Linked DNA regions of Homo sapiens: region 2 is linked to region 1. Evidence: fine-mapped expression QTL. A gene starts in region 1. The other region holds a variant in brackets. All regions are shown on one strand. Distances are from middle to middle. Region 1 holds the start of MARCHF5 (membrane associated ring-CH-type finger 5). Region 2 overlaps CPEB3 (cytoplasmic polyadenylation element binding protein 3).

Region 1 (8,335 bases):
GTGACAGAGTGAGACTTCGCCTCAAAAAAAAAAAAAAAAAAAAAAAAAGAAAAGTTGCCTCTAGTTTAAAAACCCTGAAAGATTAAATGGTATAAATTGAACATACCATTCATATTACAATTAAAATAGTCTTCACTTTGACAGTTTAGACAACACAAACACCCCTGGAATTGAAGCTCCATAAGGGCATTTTTGTTATGTTCAATTCACCACTATATACCAAGGGCCTAGAATAGTACTGGGCATATGAAGACACTCAGTATTTGTTAAATAAATTCAATAAGTGTAAATGTTTAATAATTGATTTACTGAAAAATAACATTTTTTTTTAAGACAGGGTCTTGCTCTGTTACCTGGGCTGTAGTACCCAGGGGCACAAACACAGCTCACTACAGCCACGACCCCCAAGGAATCCTTCCACCTCAGCTTCCTGAATATTTGGGACCACAGGCATGTGCCACCAGGCCTGGCCTAATTTTTAACATTTTTGTAAAGACTGAGTCTTGCCATGTTGCCCACACTGGTGTCTAACTCCTGGGCTCAAGCAATCCTCTCATCTCGGCCTCCCAAAGTGCTGGGATTACAGGCATGAGCTACTGTGCCTGGCCTAAATAAAATACGTAACTTAACCTAAAAGCAACAGAACAATATGTAACACACAGTTCCTTAGTCTTCACGAAGATAAAACCTGCATTAAAGAAATAAACAAATGAACAGTTATCTGAGCTAAATTCTGTCCCTCAAAAATTGCCACCAAAAACCAGGTTGGGGAGAAGCCAAATTCATGAAAAGAATTCTGGGTCCTAATAGGCTGACATATTTTAGTCTCTTGGCCCTGTTGGTATTCCTCAAGTGAACCATGTTGAGTATCTTTGTGTTCAACTTGCAGTAGGGCCAGCCCAGGTGAAGAAAGCTGTAAACATAAAGTAGATGGGGGAAAAATGGCCAAACTGGTTTACATTAGTCTTAAGTGCCTTCTATTTGGCTAACATAGAGTGTTTTGCTGTTTTATAGAGATGTATGTTTCATTTGCTGTAGCCCTGTGAAGTAGGGTTCTCATTTTATAAATGATAATATACATAGTGTCAGAATCTAAGTTCAAAGTCACATAGCTAGTAAGTGGCAAAATTCGAATTTCATACTTTCTATCTCTGAGCCCAAGCTTTACTCACTATACCCTACTATCTCTTATCATGAAAGATATCACTGACTTAGGACTTAGGGCAGTAGGTTTCTGCCATATCTAAAACATTTAAAAAGCTTTAAAATATAGATGCCCAGGCTCTACCCTACAGAAATTTTTGATCTTATTGGTCTTACAGTCCAGCATCCATGCATATTCTGAAATGCTCCCCAGGTAATTCTAACATGGAAGTAGGTTGCCAACTACTAATCTAGACAATAACGGTCTTTGAAAGTCATGTTAAAAATCTACCTTAAGGTATGTCAAAAGAGTACAAAGATGAGAGTAGTACAAAGATGAGAGTAAGCCAGTGTCATAGTCACCTACTTCAGTAAATGGCAGCCAGAATCTTCGCATTTCTGTTAATAAGTTTTAAATGCCTCACTAGCTTTTTTTTTTGAGATGGAGTTCCACTCTGTCACTCAGGCTGGAGTACAATGGTGCGATCTCAGCTCACTGCAACCTCCGTCTCCCAGGTTCAAGCAATTCTCATGCCTCAGCCTCCCGAGAGTTGGAACTACAGGCCCACGCCACTACGCCTGCCTAATTTTTGTATTTTTTTTTTTTTTTTTAGTAGAGACAGGGTTTCACCATGTTGGCTAGGCTGGTCTCAAAGGCCTGAGCTCTAGTGATCTGCCTGCCTTGGCCTCCCAAAGTGCTGGGATTACAAGGGTGAGCCACCGTGCCCAGGCTCACTCTTTGGCTTCTTACTTTTATGGAAATATCCAAAGAGCATATGAAAAGTTAGGTCAGCTTTTGGACATAAGAACTTTTCTAGGCTGGGCACGATGGCTCATGCCTGACAATCCAGCACTTTGGGAGGCTAGGCGGGAGGATCACTTGAGCCCAGGAGTTTGAGACCAGCACAGGCAACATGGCAAAACTCTGGCTCTATAAAAATACAAAAAATTAGCTGGGCATGGTGGTATGTGTTGTGGTCCCAGCTACTAGGGAGGCTGAGGTAGGAGGATCACCTGAGCCTGGGAGGCGGGGGTTGCAGTGAGTTGAGATCATGCCAATGCCACTGCCACTGCCACTGCATTCCAGTCTGGGCAACAGAGACCCTGTCTCAAAAAAAGAAGAAAAAAAGTCACTATGTAAAAATGAAAAGCAGGAGGCCCTCAAAGGAAAAAAATTAACTACAAAATACCCCACATCAGAACAGGGTCTCAACAGAATAGAACTGGCAGTGGCAGGTGGTTTCCTCTGGGCATATTTTAATTTGCCACAATTTGCCAATTTACAATGAAAGGAAAACCTGGTAAATTATCAGACCCCCTAGACAACTGGGGAAACTGACAAATAAGTTTGTGCATTAGTTCATACAACAAATACTTACTGATTACCTACTGAGTACCAGGCTCTGTTCTGGGATTCAAGATAAACAATAGTAAGTTTCTGCTTCCAAGAGCTTATAAACCACACACATATCACACACATATATATATAAAGCAGTCAATACAATTGTCAGGATGTTGACCTGAAACAAGGGCTGGATGAATCACCAGTTATCTCAACTGAAAAAAATCAGTGACATAATTCCTATTAACTGAGATGGCTCAAAATTCTAAGCTCCAAAAAAATGTCTGTCACTCTGGAAGGATGTGTACCCTTGGGTCATTTGTGTTCTGGGTGTGGCAGGCCCAAAAGCATTTAACTGGGTATAAACTCAATTAAGGGAGGGCCTTCATTTAACACCTTACAGTTGGAATTTTACTGAGTACAAAGAGTTGGTACCACCTGCTGAAATGGGTGGCAAGTGGTGTCTATTGAGAATTGTAAGCAACCACAAACATCATGAATTAGCTTGTACAACTTGCTATGCCAGGAAGTAAGACTTGGCTCGGGGGAAATGTGGATCTAGAGTCTCCAAAAACTCATGGTAGGACCCACGGACCAGAATTTCAACAGCAGAGGGCGGTGCACCCGACTTCACAAAGAGTTTTACCGACTGGGGCCCCCCAAGAATGGGCAACTGGACTCCTGTACGAGCTGAAACGTCTTCAATGAACTCAACGATCGTCAAGTACACTAAATGTTCAGCGTTGGACTCATTTGGCTGTTTTCCATAACCTCTACTCTGGTCTGACCGTTAAATCTCCCTTGCGGATACTCTGACCTTACAGTTCGGAGGTGGGGACGGGATGGGGCGGGGGGGACGGGGGGTGCGGGTTCAGGGAAAGTGGGAGAATGAAATCAGCCTATCAGGCTTTCCAAAAGAATGCTTATCATTGGTTCTCAGACAGAGACTTAAAATTATAAGGGGGTCATTCCCCTGAAAGATAACCCGGTTCTTGCCAGTGACATCGCTGACAAACACTTCACAAGTTGGGGAGGGGGAAGGGGGAGGGGAAGAGGGTAAGGAAAACTAATTTTGTGGATTAACAGGAGTCCCTCTCAGGTCAAAACGGGGTTCCAAGGAAACCAGACGCCACTCCTTAGCTAAGTTTCACCCAAAGTCTACGACCCAGGCCGCTCGCTCTGTCCTCCCCCAGGTCTAGACTCCAAACTTTTTGCCCCTCTCACGGCCCCCTGGCCGTGGAACTCCTCCCGGCACGCCGGGTTCTGCTCACCAAGAGCCTCGAGGGCGGGCGCGGGCAGGGCCAGAGCGAGGGTCGGCGGCTCCCGGTCCCCCCCACAGCTGCCCGTACCTGTCCAGCATCTGCTGTAGGGCTTGGTCCGGCATCTTCCGCGGAGCCGGCGCACACGGCCTTCCCCAGTGGACCCGCTCAAGGCCAGGCCCAGGGACAATAGCACTGAGAGGCGGCGGAGTAGGCCGCAGTCCGGCGGCAGCCGCGAACCCGTCACCCAGCTTCCCGGGGCAGCTCCGCTAGCCTGGCGGCGGCGGTGCAGGGCCTGCGGGAGTCCGGCGGAGGCGGCGGAGAGCGAGGAGGAGGAGCCTGAGGCGGGGAGGCGGCGATCGCGGCCCGGGTTCCCGTCCGTCGGCCCGAGGTTCCGGTCCATGGACCGCGGGCGCCGAGTTGCTGCCGGCGGAGGAGCTACCTTTGTGAGGTAAGAGTCGCCGCCTCCGTGCGCGCCAGGGTTACGACGCAGGGCGGCCCAGAGCAGCCTGGGAGATGTAGTCTTCGGACCGTCTCCACTAGAGGCTGCACAGCCCGCCCGGACCAACGCCTCCGCGCCTGCCGCCGTCTGGCCGGCGCCCTCCCGTTTCCTTCCTCCAGGGGGAAAAAATGTCTTTCGGGCCGCTTTCCAGGAAGCAGCAGGATGCGCCGCTCCACTGTCGGTAGCAACAAGGTCAGCCCTCCCTGCCTGTTTGTTTTTGCCTCCGCTCTTGCCCTCAGGTGGGACCGAGCCAGGTGAGGGGAGGGGGCTGAAGGGCCATTTCTTATCAGGGTCCCCGGCCCCGGCCGTGGCGTCGGGGCGGTCAGTGGCGGCAGTGGGGGTGGCAGAAACTCCTTCCGAAGCCCCCGGCGCTGGAGCCAGCCTCTCCTGCGGCAGAGCCCATTTTGGGGGAATTACACCACCTCCGCGAGGGGTCGGTTGGTTTGGTGCGTGAGGTTCTTCTTGAGGGGGCGGGCAAATAGGGACTGCCTGGACCAGACAGCTTCCACCCGAGTCTCTCTGTGTGTTTGGGGCTGGGGAGTTGGGGGAAGGAAAGATGATTCTCTCCCTCTCCAGGAACCTTCTCAAATGTGCCTGGGCTTTCCAGGGCTCGCCGACAGTCTCCAAATGGAACACGTTGGTGAATAAACAGCTCTTGCTTACTCAGCTGTGGGTTGTCAGGGATGTTTGTTTCTCTCTCTGCTGCTGGTCACTGTTAACCGTTTCTAGTCGCGTTGACACCTTCAAGCAGGTGGATTGGGAGTGGCGGGGGTGGGGAATCAAAAAGGAGAAATCATCAGTCACTCCTTGGGTCAGCTTCTGACGTTCGAGGGATAGCTTTGGCGGGAGGAAAGAGCTGTCGGCTCAAACGAATGCGTTTTTTGGACGACCTGTGGCGTTTTCTCTAGGGCTGTGATTGGTAGGACGCTGGTAGTTTTCCCTTGATTATGTCTAATATCTGCTACAAGGTGTTTGATTTTTTAAAAAATGAAAATGTGTTTTTAAAGCTCTTTTTATATGTAGAATTTTACAATCAACTTTTCATTATCTGTTCAAAATTTGCGAAGTATATTTGAACTAGAGTGTTCATTGCTGGGAAAAAACAACAAACCCAAAAAATGTGACCAGAAGCTTACTTGGCCTCCAATTTTTGAAATATGTTTTTGAGAAACAGCACCCACCCCCCCCCACCACACACATACACACACACTCCTCCTAGGGAAAGAAAATGAGTATTTAGTTTAATCGGGGTGTCTAATATTTTATATATATTTGTATTATATATAATATATATGTATTATATAATATATAATACATTTATAATATATAATACATATATACATTTATAATATATAATACATATATATATATATATATATATATATTTTTTTTTTTTTTTGGTAGAGACGCGGTCTCGCCATGTTGCCCAGGCTGGTCTTGCAACTCCTGGGCTCAAGCGAGCCACCCGCATTGGTCTCCCAAAGTGTTGGGATTACAGATGTGAGTCACCGCATGTGACCAGTGTCTAATATTTTATTTAATTAATTCATTTATTTAATTAATTCATTGATTTTGAGAGATGGAGTCTTGCTCTGTTGCCCAGGCTGGAGTGCAGTGGCGCTGTCTTGACTCACTGCAAGCTCCACTTCCTGACTTCAAGTGATCCTTCTAGCCTCAGCTTCCCAAGTAGCTGGGACTACAGGTGTGTGCCACCACACCCAGCTAATTTTTGTGTTTTTTAGTAGAGATGGGGTTTCACTATATGTTGACCAGGCTGGTCTCGAACTTCTGACCTCAGGCGATCAGCCCGTCTCGGCCTCCCAAAGTGCTGGGATTACAGGGGCGAGCCACCGCGCCTGGTCTATTTTATTTTTTTGAGACGGAGTCTCGCTGTGTTGCTCAGGATGGAGTGCAGTGGCACTATCTTGGCTCACTGCAGTCTCCTCCTCCGGGTTCAGGTGATTATCGTGCCTCAGCCTCCGGAGTAGCTGGGATTACAGGCTCGCACCACCATGCCTGGCTAACTTTTGTATTTTTGGCAGAGGCAGGGTCTCACCATGTTGACCAGGCTGATCTTGAACTGATCTCAGGTGATCTGCCTGCCTCGGCCTCCCATAGGGCTGGGATCATAGATGTGAGCCACCGTGCACAGCCCGGTGTCTTAACATTTTAAATTATTATTTTTTGCTCCTTGTGCTGTGTCAGTCTAACCTTATTGTGTACTTATTTCTTAAGCAGTTGTCAGCCATGGGAGTTGGATATATACTTCCTGCTTAAAAACAGAATTTTATCCCAGCATATGGATTAAGTACACTAGTACAAACTCCAAGATTCTAAGATCTTAACCAATGTTAGAATGTCTGTTTCAACTGAAATTGGAAAATATGATACCTTTTGTTGATAGCAAAGACTTGTGCACCTTGACCTTATTATACCAACAAATGGATTTTATGTTTGCATTTTTATGAAAAATCAGCTTTCTGGCTGTGTCAAAAACCTTTTAAAGTAGAAAAAAATCCTGTTACTGGTCTAAAGAGTGATTAGCATGTGACCCAGTAATTCCACTTCTAGGTATTTTCAAGAGAAATGAAAACATGTCTACACAAAATCTTGTTTGTGAATGTTCATAGCAGCATTATTCTGGGTTTTTTTTTTTTTTTTTTGAGACAGAGTCTCGCTTTGTCATCCAGGCTGGAGTGCAGTGGCGCCAGCTCACTGCATCCTCAGCCTCAGGGGCTCAAGCACTCCCCCTGCCTCAGCCCCCCAAGTAGCTAGGACTACAGGGGCGCACCACCATGTCTGGCTTAAAAAAATTTTTTTTGTAGAGATGGTGTTTTGCCATGTTGCCCAGGCTGGTTTCGAACTCATGAGCACAAATGATCCTCCCACCTCGGCCTCCCAAAATGCTAGGATTACAGGCATGAGCCACAGCACCTGGCCTACAGCATTATTCTTGATAGCCAAAAAGTGGAAACCCAAATATCCACCAGTTGATGAATGGATAAACCACATGTGGTGTATCATACAATAGAATATTATTAGGAGAAAACAAGGAATAAAGTTATGATACATGCTATAACATGAAAGAACCTTGAAAACATTATACCAAGTGAGAGGAGCCAGTCACAAAGACCACATATTGTATGATTCTGTTTGCATGAAAAGTCAAGAATAGGCAACTCCATAGAGACGGAAAGTAGACTAGTGATTGCATAGGGCTGAAGGAGTTGGGGAGAAATGGGGAGTGACTGCTAATGAGTATGAGGTTCCTTATTAGAGGGATGAAAGTATTCTAGAATTAGATAATGGTTCTGGTTATATAATTTTGTGAATTATATCACAAATAAGATAAAATTAGATTATGGTAATAGTGGCAAAACTGTAAATATACTCAAAAACCCATTGTACACTTAAAAGGGGTGAATTTTAATGTTACATAAATTACATCTCAATAAAGCTTTTAAAAGAGTAATTAGCTCCACAGAAAATGTTCATAAGGGTATCTGAAAAGAAGCATATAAACAGATAACTGATAATTCTTTATTATCAACTTTGTTTCTTATTAGTATGGGCAAAAATAGTGATTGATAAAACTCAGAAAATAAATTAATCCTAACATTTGAAATGGGTGACACATATTGTGTGAATTTCAATATTGTTTGTCAGCTTTGTTTTTTGTGGTCTTACATTTTCCAATAAGACTCAGAATAATTGGAATTACAATATATTCTCTGATTTTGAAGGAAAAAAGTCTAGATTATTAAGACCTTAATCTGACCAAAACCACATTGAAATGCACTCCTGCATTTATATGTAGGGTTGAAAATCTATGATAGTGGCGCATACCTGTAGTCCCAGCTACTCAGGAGGCTGAGATAGGAGAATCGCTTGAACCTGGGAGGCGGAGGTTGCAATGAGCTGAGATCGCACCACTGCACTCCAGCCTGGCAACAGAGTGAGACTCCGTCTCAAAAAAAAAAAAAAGTCTATGATAAATGATATTCAGCCAAGAGAGTAACCAGCATGACTATAGACAAAAACAACTTTTTCCTCAGAGATATATTTTGAAATAGAAATTAACCTACAGAA
Region 2 (8,335 bases), 240 kb after region 1:
ATGCCATTCAAGAGTCAAGTCCTAGAGTTGGGGACCCCAGGAGGCTGCCCAGTGCTCTACCCAACTGTGGCCGTACTGGTACCTGAAGCCAGCAAGTCTCAGAGGCTCACCCAAGGTCCTGGGTGTCACTGCTGGCTATTCAGGGCCCAAGGGCTCTTCAGCTAGCAGGTAATGAATGCTGCCAGGACTGGGTCCTTCCTTCAAGGCAGCAGGTTCCCTTCTGGCCCAAGGTGTGTCTAGAAATGTCACCTGGGAGGTAGGGCCTGGAAAAGGGACTTCACAACTCTGACTGAGCCCTATCCTTCTGTGGCTGAGCTGGTATCCAAGATGCAAGACGAAGCTCTTCCCACTTTTTCTTCTCCTCTCTTCAAACTGAAGGAAGAGGTCTCTTTTGGAGCCATGAGCTGTGCAGCCTGGGGTTAGGGCAGGGGTGATGCCACCACTCCCTTGGCTGATGTCTCAGTAGTCCACGTGCCCCCCGAATCCACTGTCTCTGGGCCTAGTTCAGCACTAGGACTCACCTAAGTGTTGCAGTCCTTATGGCCTAGACGGACTTTCAAGCTGATTTAAAGACACAGAGCACTGTAGCCCACAGTGGCGAGGTTTGGGGGAACTCAATTTCCCACTGCTGGAATCAGAGATTCCCCTCAGGCTTGGGCTGGTTTAAATGTGTGGTGATTCGGGACTATTCTTCTGACTCCTCAGTGCTTCTTTCAGCAATATGAAGATAAAACCAGGTACTACGAGGGCCTACCTGATTTTTGGCTCTTCTAAAGGTATTTTTTTCTGTGTAGATAGTTATTAACTTCCTGTTCTTGTGGGGCATGGGTCGGGTGGAGGTTGATGGGTGGAGACTTCTATTCTTCCATCTTGCTCTGCCTGTCTTCTGTTGATTTCAGTCCAGAAATACTGTTTGACTGTTGCTGTTTGAGAGGTCGTAGTAGCTAACTTGCACATCTGTGTTTGTGGAGCATCGTGGTGTGTGTCTTGTTTTTGGGCAAGCCTCTGCTCTTCAGACAACACCTCATGAACAGGTGCAGGAGCAGCTCTGCAGGGACAGCACCCTCGCTCATCTGGAAGACTGCCCTCTGGAAGCTTTCAGGAAAGGCCTCTGAGAGCACAGTCACAATCCAAAAGCCACGTTCTTTGTTTATTTTTACTATTATTACATATATATTTTTGAGACAGGGTCTCACTGTGTCACCCAGGCTGGAGTACAATGACACAATCTTGGCTCACTGCAGCTTCTATCTCTTGGGCTCAAGGGATCTTCCCGCCTCAGCCTCCCAAGTAGCTGGGACTACAGGTGCATACCACAACACATGGCTAATTTTTTTGTTGTTGTTGCCCAGGCTAGTCTCGAACTCCTGGGCTCAAAGGATCCTCCTGCCTCACCCTTCCAAGGTGTTGGGATTACAGGTATGAGCCACTGCACCCAGCCTAATTTTTTTTTCACCATATTAAGAGTCATATCTATTGGCATTTAATGTTCAGCTCTTCACAAACTTGATTTTTCTAGCTTTCTAGGCAAAACGAAAATGATGGGAAATTGCAAACTTAAAAGAGGTGTTTGGAAGGTGTTTTAGATATGATAGCAGACCACCAGCTTTTGAAGGGGGCCGACAGAAAAAGTGAAAACTCTCTACTGCATTGTATTACTTGGCATTCCTTATGAAGAATGTTCGTAATGTCTCCTGCTTAAGAGGGGGTGGGGGACTAGTACATTTTAGCAAGATTTTCATCAAAAAACATCAACATTCAAGATATGTTGGCACCAAAAAGGAGAAGTGCCTGGTTTCTGGAAGAATAACTTGAGGTATATGTTATTCCCTAAGAAAGCTGGTAAATAAGGCATCACTTTGTGCCTCTGGCCTCGAGGCAGTTATGAAAACCTTCATGACACATCTGAAATACTGTGTAGACTAGATCCCTCAAAACCCTTCAGGCAGTAAGGAGCATTGTTACCAAGCTTAGTTGGAAGCCCAAATAGACAGAAGGTGCTGTTTTATTAATACTGCATTTTCAAATATCAGCACAAATGTATTACATGACCTTACATATGTTTGTTAAGCATTTTACAGCTTGCAGTAGGTATTTGTATCCATCATTCCACTTGGTCCTAATATCCCTGTGTAATGGAAATCTTTTCTCATCAACTGATGGAGCACTAATTAAGTCTTTTTCATGGCTGCATGATATTCCATGGGAATAGATAACCCACATTTTATTCAAGTGTTTCCCTGTAGGTAGACATTTACTTTGCTTCTGATTTTTTGCCATTGTGGACAAGTCTTGCAATGGATATACTTTACATAGGTCCTCACATCTGGTGGCTATATTTCCAAGCATTGGGATTACAGCAGGAACAATATCCAACTGTGGGATTCTTGGGTCAAAGGGTATACATATTTTTAATTTGAATAATTTGCTAGTTTGCTTTTCAAAAATGTTGTAGCAGGCCAGGTGTGGTGGCTCACTCCTGTAATCCCAGCACTTTGAGAGGCCAAGGCAGGTGGATCACCTGAGGTCAGGAATTTGAGACCAGCCTGGCCAACACGGTGAAACCCCATCTCTACTAAAAATATAAAAATTATATTTGGGTGTGGTGATGGGCGCCTGTAATCCCAGCTACTTGGGAGGCGGAGGCAGGGGAATCGCTTGAACCTGGGAGGTGGAGGTTGTGGGAGGTGGAGGTTGCAGTGAGCTGAGATTGCGCCATTGCACTCCAGCCTGGGCAACAAGAGTGAGACGCCGTCTCAAAAAAAAAAAGATGTAGCAATTCATATTTCTATCAGCAAATGATGAGAAATAGTTATCAGTCTTTTAAATGTTTGCCAGTCTGATGAGAATAAAATGGCATCAGTTTTTCTCCTGACTACGAGTAAATATGAACATCTTTTTTTTTTTCTTTAAGAGCCAGGGAAACAGTATGCTGCTCAGGCCAGGCTTGAACTCCTGGGCTCAAGTGATCCTCTCACCTCAGCCTCCTGAGTAGCTGGGATTGCAGCTGCTTCCCACCACAACCAGCTAATACAAATATTTTTATGTGAATTGTCTGTGAATTCTTATGTGAATTATTCTCTATGCATTTCCCCATTGAGTTGTATATCTCCAAAGAAGATATACAAATGGACAACAAGCACATGAAAAAAATGCTAAACATTGTCAGTCATTAGAAAAATGCAAATCAAAACCACAATAAGATACTATTTCGACCAGGCATGGTGGCTTACGCCTGTAATCCCAGTACTTTGGGAGGCTGAGGCAGGCAGATCACCTGAGGTCAGGAGTTTGAGACCAGCCTGGCTAACATGGTGAAACCCCGTTTCTACTAAAAATACAAAAAATAAGTCGAGTGTGCCAGGCATGGTGGCTCACGCCTGTAATCCCAGCACTTTGGGAGGCCGAGGCGGGTGGATCACGAGGTCAGGGGATCGAGACCATCCTGGCTAACACAGTGAAACCCCGTCTCTACTAAAAATACAAAAAATTAGCCAGGCGTGGTGGCGGGTGCCTGTAGTCCCAGCTACTCAGGAGGCTAAGGCAGGAGAATGGCGTGAACCTGGGAGGCGGAGCTTGCAGTGAGCCGAGATCGTGCCACTGCACTCCAGCCTGGGCGACAGAGCAAGACTCCATCTCAAAAAAAAAAAAAAAGAAAAAGAAAAAAATTAGCCGAGCGTGGTGGCGC[A/G]CTCCTGTAATCCCAGCTACTCGCGAGGCTGAGGCAGGAGAATCACTTGAACCTGGGAGGCAGAGTTTGCAGTGAGCCGAGATCGCACCACTGCACTCCAGCCTGGCGACAGAGTGAGACTCCATCTCAAAAAATAATAATTAAAAAAAAAAATGATAAAGTTAATGATGTTTCTTTTCTAAAGTTTTAGGAAAGGAAAGTGGGTGAGAACGTGGTAACTTTTTTCTTTTTTTGGTTTTCAGTCATGCAGCTTTGCTTCGTTTAGATTTAAAAAGGTTCCCTAAAGGGCTATGATGAAAAGTTGTCGTCTATTGAAGTTTCCAGTGTTGGGGGGAGATTAAGTCAACAGAGAAAGTTCCAAAAATAAAAAAGCCCCAATTATTATAGTAGCTTCTTAACACCTCAGCTGTGAGTCCCTTTTCCTCTCCAGTCCATGGTATGCAATGTTGGGGTGTTAGTCTCAGGGAGCTGTGTCATTACGACACTGAGGTGCACAGCCTCACAGCAGCATCTCCCTTCAGCTCCTCCCATATTCATTGTGCCTCTTGCCCTCGGGCCTGGCTTCAGCTACAGCATCTCCCAAGGATGTGCCTGCCTCCTCCTGCTTATGGCCTTTGTCCTGGCTGCTTCCTCTCCCTGCAATGTTCTTCTTTGCCTGCATTGTCAGATGCTGCCCGGCTTTCAGGATTCAGCTCATGCGCTTTGACGTGCACAGCCCCTCTTAATCCTCCCCAGCACCCTTTGATGTAAACACTGTTATACCCATTTACAGATTACACAAATGTGTGTGTGTAATGTGTTTATGTGTGTGTAAACATACCCATTTTACAGATACAGTGATAGAGCAAACAGAGGCACAGAGATTTTAAGAATTTGTCTAATATCACGCAAGATGTAAATCAAGGAGCTTATTCCAAAGCCCATGCTCTCAACCACCATCCAGTATCAGCAGAGTTGAAAGCAGCGTCTGATTGAGACATACGTTGAAGCTATAGTGTAAACTCTCAAAAGCAAGACATGTAAGGAAGCTTTGCTAAATCATTTTTCTCTGTCTTTCCTCTTTGGGTCCAGGTTGAAGTAAAGCCATATGTGCTGGATGATCAGATGTGTGATGAGTGCCAGGGCACACGCTGTGGTGGGAAGTTTGCCCCGTTCTTCTGTGCCAACGTCACCTGTCTGCAGTATTACTGTGAATACTGCTGGGCGAGCATACATTCCCGAGCCGGGCGGGAGTTCCACAAACCGCTGGTGAAGGAGGGAGGCGACCGCCCTCGTCACGTCCCGTTCCGCTGGAGCTGAGCCACGGGCCGACCCAGCCACAAGTACTGGAGTAGATAACAAGGAGGGAAAAGAGAGGGCACTGCCTCAGGGCTTACAGTGTTCTGGAAATCTGTGCATTCGTTCTCGATTTTTAAAGAAGAATTGGGTCTTTTTATTATTATTATTATTATTTACAGTCATATTACTGAACTCAGTGTCCAGTATAATGCAGAATTGCAGAGTGTAGAATGGTACTGATTTGCACTTTGATTCACACCTTTGTCTGCTTGGTACCTTAATTTTTTATACCTGATTTGTCACTCGTGACAGTATGTAGACTGCCATTCTCATCAGCGGCCGTCAGGCTACTGTCTGTGATTCTTTTGTTTGTTGTTGTGGTGTTGTTCTGATTGTTTTGAACTGGAGCATGCACTTATTTTCAGAAACTTAGAGAGTTGCCCCTAGGACAAGACTTACCAAAGGTAATACTCGTGAGTAGGTGGCAGATGTAGCAAAAACTTCACAACAATTCAGCAATCATTAGCTCGGGTCACTTAGAGTAAGGATAACCCTTCATGAAAATAAGCCTTTAGTTGCTCTCTATTTTGACTTGTAAGGATACCTCATAAGCTGGATCTTTTATTTTTCCTTCATGTTTGATTTTTGTTTTGCCGAGGATTTTGGTTAGATCTTTTAGTATTATGTAAATTTATGCTGCAATAGCTTTTGCTGCTATTAAAATGGTATTATTAATACCATAATACTCTATTCAGGCTAGGATATCAATTAAACACAAAAACCCAACAACACACTTTTGTGATTTTAGGGATAGAGTCAGCTGCCGAACGGAGATCAGAATAGACTTCAGAAAGCTTCGGTGGAAGGTCACTATTTCTGACTGCATGTTTACTTAATCAGGTTGCTGCATGCAATAAATTTTATATCCAATGTCTAGTATAAAACGTTCCCACAATGCACAAATTAAGAATCTATATAAGCTATAAAAATACTCATTTTTTAAAAAAAGTTTTTTTCATTCAAAGAATTGGTAATTGACCGGAGGAAGGCATGCCTCAATAAATGGAATGCTCTGAATGGGAAGAGCCCATAACAGAATGACCTATATTACAACCGATATAAAACCTAGGTGTAGGATATTCTTCAAGCAAATTTGTGGATGGTAGATGAAGTACTTTGCGGTGCTCTGTTATATATTGTGAAATTTATTTTATATAGTAAAGTGATTATGTCTAACTGTGATCAAACTTAACTGTTTAAAGCCTCTGTCAGACATTAATGAACTTGACAGTTCATAACTGATATATTATAAACTAACACATGAGCTCTTAGTTACAATCTCTTAGTGCTTGCACCATTTTACATAGCTTCAGACCTTGTCCAGAAAACCAAAGAGCTCATCTTAGCTTACAAACACTAAGAATATATACAGGATATAGAGATAAGTTGTCAGATTGACAAACTAGGCACATTTTTAAGAAAGTTGTGTAATGGTGATGCTAAAGAAATGTCTGTACAAAATAAGATGGCCTGGGCAGAGTTGGTTGTCTGAGTGAGAAACTAACTACTTAATTCCCTGGATTTATCCTGTTAAGCTTGAGTAGAATGAAGGCCTGCTAGCACTAGCGTGGTCTAGAATGAAGGCCTGCTAGCACTAGCGTGGACATTTTTCTAGCATTCACCCTTGGGCTGCAGATAGTAATATATAAACACACACAATGATTGCAAGACTATGTAAATCTTTTTTTAATCTTCTTCCTATGTTTTGGAATTCTGGGGACAATCTGACTGGATATGACACTGCAGAATAGATTTAAGTCGCTGTGTTTTCTGTGCTGTGATGTCCTTGTACTGTCTTAAGTTAGTGTTGCTTGTTTTTGTTTTGTTCTCCCATGTTTAGTTGCAATTACTGGCTCTCAAGCTATAGTTTGTTTTCAAAAAGGAAAAACAAAATAGTTTTTTACTGGATTAAAAATGCTTATTTTAGAATCCTCCCCTTTTTGAGGCTTTTTGGTAATAATTGCTTTTTTCCAGCCCAGGTGTGGTTTTGTTTGTTTTTTTCTATGTTTGTGGGTTTTTTTTCATCTGTACAAGAAATTTTGTTATGCACTACTACTTTTTGTATTCTAGACAGTTTTCAAAAGTTGGCAGATTTTTTTTTTTGTTTTTAAGGAAAAAGGCATGCTTTCTGACTGACATGATCTTTTGCAATACCTCAATTTTGAAATATAGGAAAGAAAATGATATTTTCTAAGTAAGTTTATTCAGAAAAATATATATTAATTTAATTCTGCAAGAAAATGATTTAACAGATGGGTAACTTTATTTTTTTCATGCTTATTTGTGTTTTTTGAAAATGAAGAAGTTAGAGCTTTATAACTATAATATTAAAGATCATATCTAACCTACAGAAATCTACCTAATTATGTGAAAGAAGCAAAACTTTTTGAAGAAGCACCCCTCTTTCATGTATTAAAATAACACTGAGATTTTTTTAAAAGCTGGAAGATTGTACAGCATAAAGCTAAAGTGAAGGCAAAAAACATTGTCCTGAAGAATAGGTTACAAAAAATAAACTCCATTTGGTGCTGAAAGTTGTGAATAGATGGTGGAAACTACTTTCCCTTAATTTGTATATTTCTAATCAAGTGTTGATTGTGCGCGACTGACCAGGATTGTGAAAGAGTTCTTCTGTTTGTATTTTTTTAAAGAGAACTTTTTTAGTTTATTAAATTATAACATGTTCCCTTTTGTTTTGTAAATAAATGTGCCCCCAAGTTGTTAATGTTATATTAAAAGAGAGGGTCCTTCAAAAAAATTATTTTTTAAAACACAGAGGTGTTCTGACCTGCAACTTGACTGGGAAGCCCCTGGGTAACACAGGTCCTGCTGTGGCCTTTCCTTGGTGTGACACTTGAACTAGTCGATTTTTTGAAGGCTATAACCTAACCTCGACTATTTGTTGTTATGTGCAATACTGTTTGTACTGTTTGTATAAAAAATAGAAAAAAAAAAGAAAAGAAAAAAGGCATAAATCTTTATTGCAGATTTATTTTCATTGCAAACTTTAGACATTGTGATTCACTGAAATCATTTTTCTACTGTCAAATATGTACCTTTTCTTCATGCTGGTATTTTTTCAATAGTAATGTAGCCTTTGTACTGAGACAAATTTTCATTGTTATTTTTAGAAAGATTTTTTGCTAAGAAAAAAATTAAACATATTTACATATTTTTCATTTTATTTCGTATTTTCTTTAAGGAGTGCTTTCTCAATCATTAATAGAGTTGTTTCTGGGAGGGACTTTCATATCTGGTCAATGTCATAATATTATTTTGTATTTTTATTGGAATAAATTAATTTTATGA

Evidence for each region. PIP is the estimated chance that this variant, and not a neighbour inherited with it, causes the effect.
Region 2: its variant is the best candidate, but not a certain one, in a credible set for the expression of MARCHF5 in whole blood (TOPMed, PIP 0.54).

Annotation. Positions count from the first base shown.
Region 1 is chr10:92,287,029-92,295,363 of GRCh38, reverse strand. MARCHF5 (membrane associated ring-CH-type finger 5) reads right to left here and starts at 4,197. Exons shown (of 6, transcript NM_017824.5): 1 at 3,835-4,197. The coding sequence starts at 3,869. It overlaps CPEB3 (cytoplasmic polyadenylation element binding protein 3), which reads left to right and starts at 4,286. Exons shown (of 10, transcript NM_014912.5): 1 at 4,286-4,438. RefSeq lists enhancers at 3,257-3,835, 4,783-4,992 and a silencer at 3,973-4,222.
Region 2 is chr10:92,048,864-92,057,198 of GRCh38, reverse strand. It overlaps CPEB3 (cytoplasmic polyadenylation element binding protein 3), which reads left to right. Exons shown (of 10, transcript NM_014912.5): 10 at 4,760-8,335. The coding sequence ends at 4,987. Among named protein-coding and RNA genes, the nearest start is that of BTAF1, 130 kb to the right of the region's middle. RefSeq lists an enhancer at 1-115. The variant A/G (reference allele first, on the strand shown) is at 3,689.